Linked DNA regions of Homo sapiens. The protein of the gene in region 1 purifies or fractionates together with the protein of each later gene. This does not show direct contact. Each region holds a gene or a part of one and is shown on either strand. Other genes may lie near its edges.

The links. The genes of interacting proteins can lie anywhere in the genome.
Region 2: the proteins of DYNC1I2 (region 1) and PSMB7 fractionate together in Homo sapiens (co-fractionation; one large-scale study listed by BioGRID). This does not show direct contact.

Annotation. Positions count from the first base shown.
Region 1 is NC_000002.12:171,739,469-171,742,968, forward strand, and holds part of DYNC1I2 (cytoplasmic dynein 1 intermediate chain 2), read left to right. Parts: intron 1-3,500. UniProt on the Homo sapiens protein: Acts as one of several non-catalytic accessory components of the cytoplasmic dynein 1 complex that are thought to be involved in linking dynein to cargos and to adapter proteins that regulate dynein function.
Region 2 is NC_000009.12:124,356,443-124,359,942, forward strand, and holds part of PSMB7 (proteasome subunit beta type-7 precursor), read right to left. Parts: intron 2,745-3,500; exon of another isoform or gene 474-2,744; coding exon 322-473; exon of another isoform or gene 1-321. UniProt on the Homo sapiens protein: Component of the 20S core proteasome complex involved in the proteolytic degradation of most intracellular proteins. This complex plays numerous essential roles within the cell by associating with different regulatory particles.

The DNA of each region.
Region 1 (3,500 bases):
AAAATCAAGCCTATACATACCATTTCAACTATAAATATTCATTATGTATTTCTAAAAAATAAAACCTCTTTAAAAAATACTACCATATCATTATTAAATGCCCCAAAATGAACATTGGCTCCTTATTTTCGTCAAATGGCCTATCAGTGTTCAATTTTTTTTTTCTTTTTACTATTTATTTGAAGCAGGATCCAAAGGAGGGCCATCCATTTGCGATTGACATATCTCTTTTTTTTTTTTTTTTTTTTTTTTTTTGAGACCGAATCTCACTCTGTTGCCCAGGCTGGAGTGCAGTGGCACGATCTTGGCTCACTGCAACCTCTGTCTCCTGGGTTCAAGTGATTCTTATGCCTCAGCCTCCTGAGTAGCTGGGATCACAGGCGCCCGCCACCATGCCTGGCTAATTTTTATATTTTTTGTAGAGACAGGGTTTCACCATGTTGGCCAGGCTGGTCTCAAACTCCTGGCCTCAAGTGATCCGCCTGCCTCAGCCCTCCTCGGCTTTCCAAAGTCCTGGGATTTTGAGCCACCAAGCCCAGCCACAATTGACATACCTTTTAAGTTCCTCTTTAAAGTAGGGCTTGCATCCCTCTTTTTTTTCTTGCTGTTTTATTCTTGAGGAAGAAACCAGGTTGGTGTCTGTCAAGTTGGTCCTGTAGGGTTTCTCAGTCTCGATTTTGCATTCCTGTGGTGTCATTCATATTAATGTGTGTGGTTGCAGATAGTTTATGTTTCTGTAATGAGACGTTTACCCTCATAAATGATTTGGTTATCCACCAGACCTTACGTTAACGTCTCTTCAGTCTTTTTGGTCATCTGAAGCTCATTCTATAGTACGTGATGCAGAAGGTGCCCACAGGTGCATTATTCCCATATTCCACAAAAGTACATGATTATGAAGATTAGTTTGATTGTTTATAAAATCCATGACTTACGTTTTCTTTCTTTGCATACCTTAGTTACTCTGTGGACTTCTGGAAAAAAGCATTGCTGTCACAAAATCTGATCACAATCTGATTTTCTTTTTCCTACTTGCGATTTGGTCTTTTTAAAAAATGTGGGTGATCAAATGATTTTTTCCCTTTTCTTTAGAGGGTCAGTGTTCCTAGATACACAGGATATCCTTTCAATATGTAGTTTCAAGCTGTCTTTCATTTTAGGAGAGTTCTTTTGAGTTGTTTTTGGTATTTGTTCTGTATTACTGCTTTGGTTTTCTTCTTCAGGACCTGCCATTGTAGATGTACTTTTGCTGATCTTCTTTATCACTTTTTTTTTTAGATCACCTTATCTCTTCTTTTAAAATAAGTTTCTTTTTAAGTAACAGTTTTATTGAGCAAAACCCTTATACCATGAAATTCACCCTTTTAAAGTATACAATTCAGTGGTTCTTAGTATATTCACAGAGGCACGCCTAATTGCCAGTATCTAATTTTAGAACATTTTCAAATTTTAGAAAGAAAAATTATGCCCATTAGCAGTCACTCCACATTCTCCCCTACCCCCACAGCTCCTGGAAACCACTAATCAATCTACTTTCTATCTCTTTGGGTCTGCCTGTTATGGACAGTTCATGGACATTTCATGGAATCTTGCAATTGTGTACTGGCTTCTCTCACTTTGCATAATGTTTTCAAGGGTCATCCTTCATATTGATACTTCTTGTATCAATGTATTGTTCCTTTTATAGCTGAATGATACCCCATTGTATAGATATACCACTTTTTGTTTATACATTCATCAGATGAACACTTCAGTTGCTTCTGCTTTTTGGCTATTATGAATCATGCTGCTGTGAATGTGCAAGTTTTTATTTCTCTCGGGTATATACCTAGGAGTGGGATTGTTGGGTCACATGGTAACTAATTAGCATTTTGAGGAGCTGCCAAACTGTTTTTCAAGTGGCAGCACCATTTTACATTCCCCAGCAAGGTATGAAGGTTCTGATTTCCTGTATCTTCACCAACATTTGTTACTTTTTTATACTAGCTATCCTAGTGGTATGAAGTGATACCTCATTGTGGTTTTGATTTGCATTCCTCTCACGACTAATGATGTTGAACATCTTTTCATGTACTTATAGGCTATTGTAAGCACTGTGGACACAGTGATGTATCAGATACATGGTTTGCAAATATTTTCTCCCATTGTGTAGGTTCTCTTTTCACTTTCTTGATATCATTTGAAGCCCAAAAGTATTTAATTTTGATGTAGCTCAGTTTACCTACTTTTTCTTTTATCATTGTGCTTTTGGCTTCTCAACTGAGAAATCATTGCTGAGTTCAAGGTCACAAAGATTTACTTGTATGCTTCCTTTAAGAGTTTCATAGTTTTGGCCAGGCACGGTGGCTCACGCTTGTAATCCTAGCACTTTGGGAGGCCGAGGTGGGTGGATCACCTGAGGTCAGGAGTTCAAGATCAGCCTGGCCAACATGGTGAAACCCCTTCTCTACTAAAAATACAAAAATTAGCTGAGCATGGTGGTGCACGCCTGTAATCCCAGCTACTTGGGAGGCTGAGGCAGGAGAATCGCATGAACCCAGTGAGCTGAGATCATGCCACTGCACTCCAACCTGGGCGACAGAGCGAGACGCGGTCTCAGAAAAAAAAAAAAAAAAAGTTTCATAGTTTTACTTTCCATTTAGATCTGTGATACATTTAATTTTTCTATATGATGTAAGGAAGGAGGGATCCAACTTTATTTTTTTTATTTTTTTATTTTTTGAGACAAGGTCTCACTCCCATCGCCTAGGCTGGAGTGCAGTGGTGTGATTTCAGCTCACTGCAGCCTCGACATCCTGGGCTCAAACCATCCACCCATCTCAGCCCCCAGGGTGGCTGAGACTATAGGTGCATGCCACCATGCTCAGCTAATTTTTGTATTTTTTGTGGAGATGGGGTTTTGCCATGTTGCCAAGCTGGTCTCAAACTCCTGAGCTCATGTGATCCACCCACCTTGGCTTCTCAAAGTGCTGGGATTACAGGCATGAGCCATGGCACCTGGGCCAGCTTTATTCTTTTGCATATGTATATCTAGTTTTCCCAGCACCATTTCTTGAAAAGACTATTCCTTTCCTATCTAATTTTCTTGACACCACAATAACTTTTATGGAATCTGACTGAGATCCTTTTCTTTGCTATTGTCTACTAGTGAAATGAATTTTTGTGTATTTTTAGGAGGGAGGGAATGGGCAAGGATAACTTTCCTAGTTCATTTTCTAGGTTAAAGCTGTCTCTTCTCTGGCTTTTGCAAAGTGAGAATACATGTACCTTGTGCTTTCTGAGATGTGCCTTTTCTGCTTCTCTCCACCACTTCTGTCTGAACTTACTGCTTTGTCTCTTTTGTCTGGCATTCTACAACTTGGATTCTACTCCCAGCAGTTTCTCTTCTGTGAGACTTTGTCTTGGAAAGGAACTTTGATTTGTTAATTTTGAGAGTTTATAGCACCCAGACTGTACCATGAGAACTTACTTATACTGCACTGTAGTCTGCTTGCATTTAC
Region 2 (3,500 bases), on another chromosome or scaffold:
AGAAATCAGGGGATTCTTTAAGACACTTGAGAAAGGACAGCAGATGATCCAAACCTCTCCGGCCCCACCTCCCAGCCTAGGGCTCTTTCCTGGGCCACCCTCCACCTCTCCCATCAAATTAAATCACTTTCCTACACCTGACAGCAGCCCACTGTCATAAAGCAAGTAACAAGCCGAAGGTCTGTGTGGGAGGTTGATTTGGGAACACTGGATGTACTTAATGTGGAAAGAACCAGGAAAACTCCATCCAGATGCCATGGAGATACCAAGGGTGGCCACGACGCCAGGGGACCCAGGAAGAACTTCGTCTCCTTCACTCACCTGGTCCCCTTCTTGTTGGGCACTGTGTATGGGCGGAGAAAATCCAGCTTGTTCTTGCTGATGACGCAGAGGTCAATGTTGCTTCCGGAGCCCAGGTCGTTGAAGATGCCAGCTGCGATGGCTTCGCTCACCAGATTCTTGGCTTCCTCCTCCTGAGAAACAGAACGGCGGCAATAATGTCCCCGGCCAAACTAGGGCCTGCTCTGACATCCGCAATGTACGTCCACTAGCAGTGCGCAAGACCTCCCGCGAGACAGGTGTTGTTTTTAATGCCCATCTCACAGATGAGGAAAAGATCTCAAAGTACCTTGATTATTTACCCAAAGTTCCCGACCCAGGCCTTTAAAACTTTTTATGCATGCACCGCCTCTTGACCACATCAGACAATCACCACAAAACGATGGGCTGACAGTTACTAGAGGGTTAGTAACTTATCTTTAAAAGGGCCAGGTAGTAAATATTTTAGGCTTTGTGGCCAAAAGTCTCTACCACACCTACTCAACTCTGTCACGCTAGCACAAAACAGCCACACACAAATACATTAAAAAATGGGTATAACTGTGTTCCAATAAAACTCTATTAGCAACAGGCAGTGGGCCAGATCTGGCCCACTGACTGCAGTTTACTAACTATCCCCTGATCAAGAATGTCCAACAATAGCTGAAAGTTACTTGAGAAAGTCAGCACTGTAGGAGGAAGAAACTAACACCAAAACACAAGCCGGTAGTTCTGGGGAAATGCTGGCAGACCAAGGGCGGGACCTCTTGCCCAGAATAATCTCTCTCTCCTACTAAGGAACCTATAGGTTCACTGAAGTAATCCATTACTTTGAATCACTCTCTCCTTTGCCCCACCTTTAAACACAAATCCCCATCCCTAATAGTTACTGGTGAACAGATGGACTCATCCCTTTCTTATCCGAGAAGCCCCATCACATGCTATGTCCTATCACATGCTATACCAGAAGCTAGGGCTGCAGAGGTGGATGACGCCCCCAGATCCCTGCCCCCTAGGGGCTTAAGAGTCTAGCAGGGGCACCTGACCCAAGTAAGTACAATGCAGGGTAAGGCTGGCTAAAGAGCACGTGAAAAGGAGCTGGGAACACAGCTGGTCAGCAGAGCTTCAGGGAGGGCTGAAGGACAGGCTGCACACGAGGCACTCAGAAAACAGCAGTGAAACAGAAGGCAGGCAGCAACGGCAGTGGTACTGGACCTGGGGAACACCAAGTTCAAGCTCTATATACAACGAGGACAAAAATGAACCAGGCTCCCTGAAAGCAGGGAATCTAACCTGTGCTACGGCGCCTTCCCAGTCCACGAGGGCGTGAGAGTACATACACATGCAAGTGCACTCCAGCGCTCACCCAAGCAACACCCTTGGAGAAACACGGACTCCAGGCCCAAATCCAGCCTGAGACCCTCAAAGGGCAGATCCGCTAACCTCAAGTTTTCAGAAGATCTGAACCCACTGGGGGCTCCTGCTCCTCTGCCTGCCCCATGCCAGACTAGGATTCCAGTGACATAAGCGCCCTCTACAGACTCAGAAGGACAGAGAAGGTTCTGCTGGAAGTGGGCTCCTCAGCAAACCAGCAGATAGGGGTTCCTTTGATATTTATACCCCAGGTTTTTTCACTCTCACGTGACATCTATGTGGGGCCAATGAAGCCAATTCTTCTTTTGTACATATGCAGTCCTGTAAGAATGCATTCAAACGGGATCCGCTAATTAGGAATTTTCTCCTGGAATTCTCAACAGTCTATGGGGCCAGAAGCTTTCCACAAACCAGTGAAGGTGGCAGCAAAGAAAGCCTCTTAGACGAGGAGCTGGCAGCAGCTGCTATCTAGATAGACAGCAAAAACCAACCACTAATTCAGCAAACACAACCTCATACCTAACCGCTTCCCTTTAAATGGCCTTCGGTGTGTGCGCACATGGGCACGTGCGGGGAGAACCATACTTATTCCCCTGTTCCCGGCCTACCACCTCTGCTCCCCCTTCTCTTCTCTACCATTTAACTGTCTCCTCTGCTTTGTTTCTTATCACTGCTGCTGGTGTCTAGAGCCAGCCAGCAGTACCTGGCAGACATCGCGACCCTGCGGGCAGCGCTTAGGACTGCACATTTACATTTCCCAAATGATCTGGGTAGATGGGGACAGGTGAAGACTTGGGGAAACGGAAATATACGAATGACATGAGACATGCATATCTAGTGTCAATCCATTCGACTGGGCACAGGACAGCAGACTGCTGACAGTGCTATGTAAGATTATGAGTGATCCTCCCTCTATTTTGCAAACAGTCTGTAAGTAACTGATAAAACTTTAAAATATGCAAATTTTAAAATTATATAGTTTGATTTACTCATCAAATTATCATGTATGCTGTTATTTAAGTATGAATAAAGGCTTTTTTAAATTGGGAAAATACATCTTTTAAATTCCTTTCCTCCCCACCAATTCTAGGGAAGATCATTCCTTAAGGAAGAAAATCTCAAGTTTCTCACTTTTTTCCCCCCAGTCCCACTCCATGTCTCATATACACATGGCTGAAGATGTTAGGAGATGGAATGAAACTTAGATTTATGGAGCACCTATATGCTCACTAAAACAATCAATCAATCAACATCTACCAGCACTCTAACGTGCCAAGCCCTGAGTTGGGCACTTTGATGATCATCATGTTCACCCCTGCCCCCAACCATCTTTTGATGTTGGTATGGTCAGAAACTCTGGCTGACGGTCAATGACTTACACAAGGTCACACAGCAGGTAAACAAAAAATAGTAAAACAGGCCCATCAGGCCCCAGAGCCACAAGGCCGCAGCACCACACCAACTCGCAAGTGACCTTCCTTGGGCCGGGGGCTCCTCAGCTAGTCCCTGACTCAAGGCTGTGTCATTCACGCCCCACCACCAAAGAGCCTTAAGACCTGGGTAAATTTAAGAGGAGGAGGATGGTGTTTGCCGGTTTCTCTCTGGGCCAACCAGCAGCTCCTCTGATGGTCACTCCCATTGGGGGTTGGAGGGCAGTGTTTCCCAAAATACCCAAGACTACCACTTCAAGGGCCTTCTTCATTCTCAACCAAGTTAGGGCAACATCTCTACAATGCAACACCAGATCAATATTAAGATCTAAGGTCTTATTTAACATATCCCTCCCTTAACACCCCAAACCCTCATAA